Linked DNA regions of Homo sapiens. The protein of the gene in region 2 purifies or fractionates together with the protein of the main gene of each other region. This does not show direct contact. Each region holds a gene or a part of one and is shown on either strand. Other genes may lie near its edges.

Region 1 (3,653 bases), on a different chromosome or scaffold from region 2:
TTTTCCCTGTGTTTTCTTCTAGTTTCTGGTCTTAAATTGAGGTCTTTGATCCATTTTGAGTTGAATTTTGTATAGGGTAAGAGGTGAGGGTCTGGTTTCATTCTTCTGTGTATGGATATCCAGTTTTTCTAGCACCATTTATTGAAGAGACAGACTGTCCTTTCCCCAATGAGTGTTCTTGGTACCTTCATCAAAAGTCAAATGTAGATATGTGGCTTAATTTCTTAATTTCTCTATTCTGTTTAATTGGTCTATGTGTCTATTTTTATGCCAGTAGCATACTGTTTTGGTTACTACAACTTTGTGATATATTTTGAAGTCTGGTAGTGGTATCAACTACCAGATTTGTTCTTTTTGTTCAGGATTGCTTTAGCTATTCAGAGTCTTTTGTGGTTCCTTACAAATCTTAGGATTTTTTTCCATAATTCTGTGAGGCATGTCATTGGCATTTTGATAGGGATTGCATTGAATATATAAATTTCTTTGGGTAGTGTTGTCATCTTCATAATATTAATTCTTCTGATCCATGAGCATGAGATGTATTTCCATTCGCTTGTATCCTCTTCAGCTTATTTCATCAGTGTTTTATAGTTTTCGTTATAGAGGTCTTTCATCTCCTTGGTTAAATTTATTCCTAGGTATTTTATTTTCTTTGATTTTTGTGTCTATTGTAAATGGGATTGCCTTCTTGATTTCTTTTTCAGCTAGTTTGTGTATAGAAATACTGATTTTTGTATATTAATTTTGTATCCTGCAACTTTATGGAATTCATTTATCAGATGTGAGAGTTTTCTGGTGGGGTCTTTAGGTTTTTCTATATAGAAGATCATGTCATCTGCAAATAGGGACATTTGACTTCCTGCTTTCCAATTGGGGTACTCTATTTCCTCCCCTTGCCTAAGTGCTCTGGTTAGGACTTCCTAGACACAGGGATGCTTTTGTGCTAAGTTCCATCTTCTGACCCCAGTCCTAACCTCGACTTTAGCCTCTGTGGGCAGTGGGTACTTTGGAATTCTTAGCTTTTACAGACTATAGATGAAGCACAGATAACCACTTCTCTCCTTACATTCCATTCTTCACTGTCAGTATCGTAAGAATCTGGCATGTTCATTCTTTTTTGGTGCTGCCCTCTCGCTCAACCTTAGCCACGCTAGAGCTCCAGGCCACATCCTGAAAAGAATTAGCCTGGCCTCCCAGTGACTTTCTTGATTTGGCATCTGTCAGTAATACAGCTGATTTGCCCACCAAAATAACTACTAGCCACCCCTGAAGCCTGAGTGCATAACATGTCGTCCCAGTTTGCCACGCCCACAGACAGTTCCTTTGGCTCCTATTTGGGGAGAGTCTCAGCCCCATCCTATGAATTCTCTTCCCATTGTTAAACAGAGACCCAGCTGGGAAAACAAGGCTGAAATTCTGACCCCATCGTCTCTTTCCCTGATTTGCAGCTGACTGGGGCAGATGGAATTGATTCAAACCCTGGACTAAGGGGGAGTGAAAGGGGTGGGTTATGATAAAGAGAGACAGGCTGCTGGACTTCTTCAGAGGTGGGCCCTGGCCAGGGGAGGCAGAATTCCTTCATGCTCACCCTTTACTGTAGCAAATCAATTTGCAATGGCTTATAGCTGCTGGAGCACTGGGTCTGGGGCCCCCCCAGCTGCATGTGGAGTAAGTTGATTGCAGGCTAGAAGGCAAAGCATTTTTTGCCTTTTACGTTTGTGTGGCACTGAGACCTGAAGAAGCCAGATTTGGAACTTAATCAAAAGCTTCTGAGAGTTGGATATAATGACAGCACCGGAAGTATTTGGTCTCTGTGTTCTCTTTCAGCTATCTCACGTGAGAGGGCAGTGGAACTCCTTAGGAAATGTCTGGAGGAGGTGAGTAGTTCCCATAGGATCCTGAAAGGAATGTTTGTCTCTCTGTTTGCCAGTGTTGTTCCTGTTCCTCAGTTATATTTTTTCAGATTTTTGCCAGAAGGTGTAATACATACCCACTAACCAGATGTGAAGTTGCTACCAGGGATAGAGTTTGGTGTGGATAGCAAGCTCACTTTTCTCTCACAGATTACCTCCTCAATGTCAGTTTTATAATTTAATTCTTTCTGGTTTATCCAAACCAGTGGTTCTCAAATTTTAGTGTGTGTAAGTATCACCTGGGAAACCTGTTAAACAGATTGCCATCTCTGCCCCAACCCTCAATTCTGAGTCCACTGTTCTGAGGTACAAACTGGGAAGCTCTGCTTTAACTGGCAGTCCCAGGTGATTTTCCTACAGGTGGTAACTGAGGCTGTACTTGAAGAACTTCTGCTCTAGACTTTATTTTTTTATTTGAGACGGAGTTTCGCTTTTGTTGCCCAGGCTGGAGTGCAGTGGCACGATTTCAGCTCACTGCAACCTCCGCCTCTGGGTTCAAGCAATTCTCTTGCCTTAGCCTCCCGAGTAGCTGGGATTACAGTTGCCCACCACCATGCCCGGCTAGTTTTTTGTATTTTTAGTAGAGACAGGGTTTCACCATGTTGGCCAGGCTGGTCTTGAACTCCTGACCTCAGGTGATCCGCCTGCCTCGGCCTCCCAAAGTGCTGGGATTACAGGCATGAGCCACCACGCCCATCCCTGCCCTAGACTTTATACCTGCTCTGTTCTTGTGCCACCTGTAATTGCCATACTGCCTGCTCCCTTAATAGTGCTCGAGTCTTTGTAATCTGTGAGAAAAAGCCTCCCCTAAGAATTCAGGAGGACCATAGAAAGCAACTAGGAAGCTTTGGGCAGAAGGGGAGAGTAGACTTTGGCTTGCGAGGACAGGATTACAGAACACACCCTTTCTAACACTACTCCTTAGAGTCTAAGGCTTTGGGTATAGATGGAGAATGGGGGAATGGGGAGGTCAAAAACCAGCCACATTAGTTTTTTTCATTCTTTTACTGTTCCTGTGGCTTAAGGATGAACTTGACCTCGTGGTTTAGTAAGAGAGTAGGAAGATAAGAGCAGGAGCGTTGGGAGTAATGTCAGTTTGCTTCTTACACAAACCTTTTGTTTTCAGTCCACAGTGCCCACCCCACCCCCCGCTTTTTTTTTTTTTTTTTAAGAGATGGATCTCACTTTGTTGCCCAGGCTGGAGTGGAGTGCAGTGGCACCATCATAGCTCACTGCAGCCTGGATTTCTGGAACTCAAGCGATCCTCCCAAGTAGCTGAGACTACAGACAGGCACCACCATGCCCAGCTCATTTTATTTTTAAGAGATGGGGTCTTGCTATGTTACCTAGGCTGGTCTTGAACTCCTGGGCTCAAGATATTCTTCCACCTCAACCTCCCAATTACAGGCCTGAGCCACAGCTCCTGGCCTCTGCTTCGTTCTGAGGACAATCACTCTTTGTTAGCTTATTATCTTGAGACATTTTAAGAGAGACGTCTGTGTTTACCAGACTGATGGGTAACAGACTATGGGGAACAGAACACTGGATTGTCTCATTCTTTCGTCAGCTGACTGACCAGAGACAGGCTCTTAGTTGCACCTCCCAGTTCAGCCTCCCTGCCTCCCAGTCATCCTCCAGCTGCTGTTTGGGTACCCTCTACCACTAGAGTACTAGTGCCCTACTGCCAACTGCCTCCAGTAGAATATCAGTTCCACAAAAGCAGGGATTTTTGTTTGCTTG
Region 2 (3,653 bases):
TGAGGCAGGAGAATTGCTTGAACCCAGGAGGTGGAGGTTGCAGTGAGCCGAGATTGTGCCATTGCACTCCAGCCTGTGAGACAGAGCAAGACTCTGTCTCAAAAAATAAAAAAAAAATTTAAAAAAATTAAAAAAAAAAGACTTATATGGCTGAGCACGGTGGCTCATGCCTGTAATACCAGCACTTTGGGAGGCCGAGTCAGGTGGATCACCTGAGGTCGAGTTCGAGACCAGAGTGGCCAACATGGTGAAACCCCATCTCTACTAAAAATACAAAAATTAGCCAATTGTGGTGGCGGGCACCTGTAATCCCAGCTACTTGGGAGGCTGAGGCAGGAGAATCGCTTGAACCCAGGAGCCAGAGGTTGCAATGAGCAGAAATCATGCCACTGCACTGCAGCCTGGGCAACAGCACGAGACTCTGTCGAAAAAAAAAAAAAAAAGAAAGAAAGACATTTATATCATTTCCAAAGTAGTTCATTACTCTACAACTTAAAGGACTTACATGATGTTTGGGAAATGACTAACATCAGCTATTAATTAATAAATATGTATTAAATACATTTAGAACATAAAATACATAGATAAATTTAGATTTGGGTCTTTTGCATCATTTAAAGTAATCCACTGGAAAAAATTGGCAAGTGACATGTTTAATAACCTGGAACAAATCTTTCACTTTTGCTTTTTGAAATAAAATATTTCATCTCCAGTTACACCAGCAAAGATCACTATTCTAGAGTGTTTTAACTTCACCATTGTATTTCTGATCTCAGTATAAGAGAACAACTCCCTCACTTGCTATCATCAAAATGTTGCTCTTTGGGTGTGACCTTTGACAAATGGCCTTCTCCTTTCAGTGGCATCTTCTCGGTTCAGGTCTAGTCTGTACATACAGTCTTTAAATTCCTTAAATTTACTATTTTCCTTCACTTGGAAATTAACTGACAACACAGGAGTCTAGAGTCAGCTTCAAGATTACCAATGCTATACTTTGGAAAGTTGCAGCCTTTTCTTTTCAATAACTATGACCTTGAAGTCATCAGCCCATCTAGATTGTGTAACTTATTATGAACGGTTATATTTACTATTCCATTAGAGATAGTATCAGCCTTGGCTTTCAGATACTTTCATAGTTTATTTTAGGTTAGTGGTTGGTATTTTATGGGCTTTAGAGGATAAGCTATTCTTGCCTACTAAGGACAGAGACATAAGCATAGTACAATTCAGGGAAGTCAGAACTACTGCCTTGGCTGTACCAGCTGCCACCAAAACACCAGCAAAGAGGATCTGGAAAGGCCTGCCAATAGACCATCCCCAGGAAATGGGAAATTGGAGTCAGGAAAGCATTCCGAAGTTATAAGTAGGGCTCTTTTGTGCCACACTGGTATTTCCTGAAGATTTAGGCAAATTGAAGTTACTGCTGTGGGATTTCTAGGCCACACATATTCTAATGGTGAGGAAGATCAGGGTCACCCTTGAATGACTAACACTAGACCATTGATTCATACAGATTGGAGTGAGCCCATCAATGTTTCACATGCATTGTGGTGGCTCATTTACCTCTCTTCACTGCCTCATGGATGGGCGAGGCCAGGTGCACCTCCAACTGGGCCTTGGCTCCGAACTCCAGCAGCACATTGACACATGCAGCACTGCCGCTGCAGCAAGCATTGAAGAGGGGTGTGGCTCCGTGAACTGTCACTCCATTGACCTAATGATGGGCAAAGAGAGACCCAAAGGATTTGTTATTTCATTCTCACCATCTCCAAGTATGTCTTCCTATGTATTTGCCTAGAGGAATTCCCCACGCTGGTGAATAAGTGAGGGAACTCCACATCTTTACAGTATTATGAAACCTCATGAAGTTATTGGGTGGATCGAGCGAGTTACTATATGTAAACACTTAAAACATTACATGTCACCCAGTAAGCACTCAATAAGCATTTGCAACAACAATTATTTCCATTTTCCATTTTCCATTAATATGACTCCCCTCTGAATCATGAACAAACATGGCAGGCTGTGGTCCCAAAATCCATGCTTACAAAATCCTTGGCAATTCTCCACAGATCTACTGTCTTTCTTGCCACAACTTCCTCTCTGGTCTACTATAATCCATGCAAATTACACATGCCAGCTGTTACTTCTAGAGATAGCATGACCAAGCCAAAGGGACATAGAAAATAGCCATCAACATTTTCTTAATCCAGTCTATCATTGTTGGACATTTGGGTTGGTTTCACAGGAAGGGGAACATCACACACCGGGGACTGTTGTGGGGTGGGGGGAGGGGGGAGGGATAGCATTAGGATGTAAATGACGAGTTAATGGGTGCAGCACACCAACATGGCACATGTATACATATGTAACAAACCTGCACGTTGTGCACATGTACTCTAAAACTTAAAGTATAATAAAAAATAAAAATAAAAATAAATAAATAAAATTAAAAGATTAAATTTAAAAAAAGGAAAGAAAATAGCCATCAACATGGTGTCTGCAACCATCTTTGGTACCTTGTAGGGATGTGGGAAGCACATGAGAACCAGCAGGGCTGGGAGACATCTTTGTGTATCAGCAATAGATTGGAAAGAACATCGGGAACCGCAGGAGTGGTAGGGAGCCTCTGATGCCATTGAAATATAGGACAGTCAAGTTTGTGATGTGAAACAATTTTGCTTCAACAACTAAGGATGCATGCTTGTGATAATCAGGATTCTAAATGTCCTTGCTTTGGACACAAAAAAAGACTTGTTTCCAGAGTTGCAATATAACCCGTGAAACAGGGTCTTGCTCTGCTATCCAGGCTGGAGTGCAGTGTCATGATCATAGCTCACTGCAGCCTCGAATTCCTAGGCTCAAATGATCCTCCTGCCTCAGCCTCCTGAGCAGCTGGGACTACAGGCGTGCACCACCATGACCCACAAATTTAGAAAAATTATTTGTAGACAGCGTCTAGCTATCTTGCCCAGGCTGGTCTCAAACTCCTGGGTTCAAATGACCCTCCTGCCTCAGCCTGCCAAAGGGCAGGGATTACAGGTGTGAGCCACCACACCCAGCCTAACCCCCATTAAATTGGAAAGTTAAAGATAATATGCTAAGATGGCAGAGACAGACAAGGTCAGGGGAAAATGTGTGTAAATTTATATTGCTAGGGGTTTCTATATTTTTACTAAAAAATATTTGGTAGGACTAGTTTGATTTGTGTTTTACTAAGTTTCATCCTCACCCTCAGTCTAGGAAGTTGTCTTCTTATGCGATTTCCTATAAATTTCTCTTAGTTCACGTCAACAAACATTTATTGAGCATCTACTAGGTGCTAATGTTTTGGAAACAATGATAAGACAATTGCCTCTCCTTGAGTGGGCTGAACAATTGCCTCTCCTTGAGTAGGCTGAATTCCATTAGGGAAGACAAATACAAAAAGAATTTTTTTTAATTTTTTTATTTTTTAGATGGAGTCTTGCTCTGTTGCCAGGCTGGAGTGCAGTGGTGTGATCTCGGCTCACTGCAACCTCCGCCTCCTGGGTTCAAGAGATTCTGCTGCCTTAGGCTCCCAAGAAGCTGGGACTACAGGCGCGTGCCACCATGCCTAGCTAGTTTTTGTATTTTTAGTAGAGACGGGGTTTCACCATGTTGGCCAGGATGGT
Region 3 (3,653 bases), on a different chromosome or scaffold from region 2:
AGTGTTTGATATCGTGAGGAACTATACTGCAGATTATGACAAGACCTTAATCTTCAATAAAATCCACCATGAGCTGAACCAGTTCTGCAGTGCCCACACACTTCAGGAAGTTTACATTGAATTGTTTGGTAAGTGTCTTAATTCTTATGTATGTAAATAGCCAATTGGAAATCTTTGTTCAGCTTACTTATTGAGGTTATATTGGTAAACCTTAGTGCTATTTAAGCATTTCTTCTGAATTTATCATAGAGCAATTGTCTTTAAAATATTTTTTATCTTAAGTTTAAAATTTTTTATATAACTTGTTAGAGATTGGAAAAACTACTCAGACTGTATTCTGTTTTTACTGTAATAACTTAGTGAAAATTAGCTTTGTTGATGTTTTAATAGATAATTTGAAAAATTTAGAAACCTGTGTCTTGAGGCTCCCATTTTTGATGATTTGGTAGGAGACTGACAGGACTCAGCACATAGTTGTGTTCACAGCTAAGATTTATTACAGCCAAAGGGTACAAAGCAAAATCAGCGAGAGGCAAAGGCACACCAGCAAAATGCAGAGGAAAGCAGGTGCAGGCTTCCAAGAGTCAAACATGTGCCTAATTCCCACAGCAACAAGCTGTGACAACACATGTGAAATGTTGTCTACTAGGGAAGCTCATTGGAGACTCATTGCCCAGGGTTTTCACTGGGGGCTGATTATGTAGGCACCCTCTGCCTACCACATAAAAATTCCAGACTCCTGGAAGGAATGCAGGTGTTTGGCATAAGCCACATTGTATAAACAGTTCACAGCAAGTCAATTGTATTAGCTCTGGGGATAGTGGGACCCTTCTACAAATCCAAGTTCCTAGGTGCCAACCAAGGACGAGTTTACAAAAGGCCTTTCTAAGGATTGCAGTATCAGCCCTGCTTTCTTAACTCACTTCTGTACAACTTACTTTTCATTTATGATAGTGGAAGTTCTGACCAGGGAATGAGTTGTTGCTGTTGGTAGCTCACTTTTCCCTCCTGAAATTTTTAGTGAATTTCTAAGATGAAGGAATAAGCAAGAGTAATCAATTTAAAATCTACCAATTGAGTCCTCTTTGGTGATTGTCAACCACTGAAGTGGCATGTGAGGAAACTGATGGGTCCTGCTTTGTCTCACCACCAGTCATTTAAATAGCGAAAGTACCATTGAGGTGAATAGAAAGTGCATAGTTACAAGCCCAAGTGTTCATGCTGTGTATATTTCAAATACTTTTCTATGAGCTTCTCTCTCTGTCTCTCTCTCTCTCTCTCTTTAAATCCAAAATAACAGTGAGGCTGAGATCCATGGAAATGAAGTTTAGTTATTTGGGAATTTGAGTAAAGATTTACTGAACATAGAAATTTGTTTTTCTTTGAGAATGAGGATACATATTGAGTAAGAGCCCTGAATTAAGATACTAGAGATCCAGATTCTCCATTTATTAGATCAACATATTTTACCCAGTAGTTGTTTATCCAGTAAATAAGTCTAATAAGTTACCCAGTAAAAAAGCTTATCCATAGTTAAGTAATACATTTAGTGGGTAAACTTATTGGATAAACAGACTATCTGCTTGTCATCTTCGTTCCTTAATTTCTTTATTAGATAATTCCTTGCAATTTTTTTCCCACACAAAAGGGAAGAAAAGGCAGTTTAAGCTCTGTAAAAGAATAGTACTGTGGAAACTTTAGGTCTAATAATGATTAGTTTTGTTTCATTATGAATACAATGTAAAAAAAATTGACTATCATGAGATCTGTTGTTCTTGGCTTAAAAAACAGATCAAATAGATGAAAACCTGAAGCAAGCTCTGCAGAAAGACTTAAACCTCATGGCCCCAGGTCTCACTATACAGGTAAGTTCTTTTCCTAGGGAAGTTCTCTGGGGATTTTGAGAGCTTTGAGTTTGTTCCTCCTTTCATTGGATTGTTTTATTCAGCAATTATTTGAGATGCTATGGTGATTTATAGAATACCTTTCTCAATTTGACTTTAGATCTCTGCCAAAATAAAATACTCTTGTAGCTTACTATGGGTGACATTTGTGAACTCCTAGAGGGAACTGATAAGCTGAGGCTCTTACAAGGAAGTAAAATTCATATTTCTGCCATGTATGAAGCATTAAGATACAGTAATGGTTATAAATCAGTGTAAGCATAATCCCTGCCCTCAGTAAGATTATGAAAAGGGAGTTCAAGTGTAAAATTTGAACAATCCTGGACAAAATAGTTATCACAAAGTATTAATTGACAGATGAATCTATTGAATGATTATTGCTGTAAGAGTAAGAGAACATTGGAAGACAGTGTGTCTAGGAGAGGGCTGTGATTGAGTTGAGATTTTAAGTAGGTTTGGAAAAATTAATTGGATTTAAATGGGGGAAGAATGAGAAAGGTATTTCAAGTGGGAGGGACAGCCCTAGTAAAAACAAGGTAGCAGGTGAATTTAGTGGTAGTGGTGATGGTGACGTTGGGAAATAGAATGGTGAGAGGTTTTACCCCTGCTTTTTTTTGGGTCACTGTGTTTTCCAGATTGTGGGTTGTAAAATCAACTTTAGTGAGTCATGAACAGCATTTTAAATAAAATGGAATAGAATAGGAAAAGAAATGGTATGTAATAAGTTTAAATATTCTGTGACACTTGTGTTTCACAGTGTGGCGGGGTAGGTGTTTATATTGGACGTCAGTGCAAAATGTGTTTCTTACTGTGTCCACTGTCAGTAACATTCGAAAGCCACTGCTCTGGATCCAGATGACCTAAGAAGTTATATTGAGGCTTCTCTAGTGTCCTTTCTCAGGAGCTCTAGGAGACCAGTTGATTGTTGATTGTTGTGATGAACATTACTGCAACTAAAGCTTATCACATGTCTCTCAATTCTTTACACTCAGCACCACTGCTACTGAGAGTGTGCGCTCACTGTGATTGTATGTGTTCGTGCTTCTCAAAAACAAGACTGAAAGATAGGTGGGGTTTTCCTCATGGCCTCATTCATGCAATGTCATTATCTCAGGCGCTTGAGGGTGAGCCACCAGAGTTAAGGGGTCGTTTGAAATGTCCAGAGGTAACTTTGTAAAATCCTCTGAGTTGTTCAAGTCAGTTGTAGCTGGAGTAGCTTTTTAGTTTTAAAGATAGTGAATGTGAAGGTCAGCTCTTAGATTCTGCCCAGGGTGTTACTCAGAGATCTAGCTCATTCAACTGTTGTTTAGAATTCCTTGCCTTATATTACTTAGCCATTTTTCTGTTCCCAGTTTTTTGCTATTAAACAATAGTGTAATGAACATTCATGACACATGTTCTTGTATGTACAAATTATCTTTCAAACTGACTGTACAAATGTACATTCTTAACAGCAATATGTGCAAATAATTGTGACCCATGAACTCACCAACATTGGAAGCAATCAGACATACTGATTGTTACCATATGGATGGGTGGGCAATTATATCTCCCTTTGATTTGCATTCCTTTGGTTGTTAATGAGGTTGAACATCTTTTGATACATTTATTGGTCATTTATACTGTCTTCTGCTGATTGCCTATTCATATCTTTTGCCCATTTTTCTGTTGGATTGTTTTCTTTCTTACTGATTTGTTCTGTATAAATTTGGAATTTTTATACACACACGTTATTTATGTTGTAGAAAA

What was found.
Region 1: the proteins of ASB11 (region 2) and PSMB2 purify together in Homo sapiens (affinity purification with mass spectrometry, with the first as the bait; one large-scale study listed by BioGRID). This does not show direct contact.
Region 3: the proteins of ASB11 (region 2) and ERLIN1 purify together in Homo sapiens (affinity purification with mass spectrometry, with the first as the bait; one large-scale study listed by BioGRID). This does not show direct contact.

Annotation. Positions count from the first base shown.
Region 1 is NC_000001.11:35,603,457-35,607,109, reverse strand, and holds part of PSMB2 (proteasome subunit beta type-2), read left to right. Parts: intron 1-1,827; coding exon 1,828-1,877; intron 1,878-3,653. UniProt on the Homo sapiens protein: Non-catalytic component of the 20S core proteasome complex involved in the proteolytic degradation of most intracellular proteins. This complex plays numerous essential roles within the cell by associating with different regulatory particles.
Region 2 is NC_000023.11:15,291,607-15,295,259, forward strand, and holds part of ASB11 (ankyrin repeat and SOCS box protein 11), read right to left. Parts: intron 1,715-3,653; coding exon 1,564-1,714; intron 1-1,563. UniProt on the Homo sapiens protein: Substrate-recognition component of a cullin-5-RING E3 ubiquitin-protein ligase complex (ECS complex, also named CRL5 complex), which mediates the ubiquitination and subsequent proteasomal degradation of target proteins, such as BIK, DIRAS2 and RPN1.
Region 3 is NC_000010.11:100,172,420-100,176,072, reverse strand, and holds part of ERLIN1 (erlin-1), read left to right. Parts: intron 1-2; coding exon 3-128; intron 129-1,791; coding exon 1,792-1,865; intron 1,866-3,653. UniProt on the Homo sapiens protein: Component of the ERLIN1/ERLIN2 complex which mediates the endoplasmic reticulum-associated degradation (ERAD) of inositol 1,4,5-trisphosphate receptors (IP3Rs).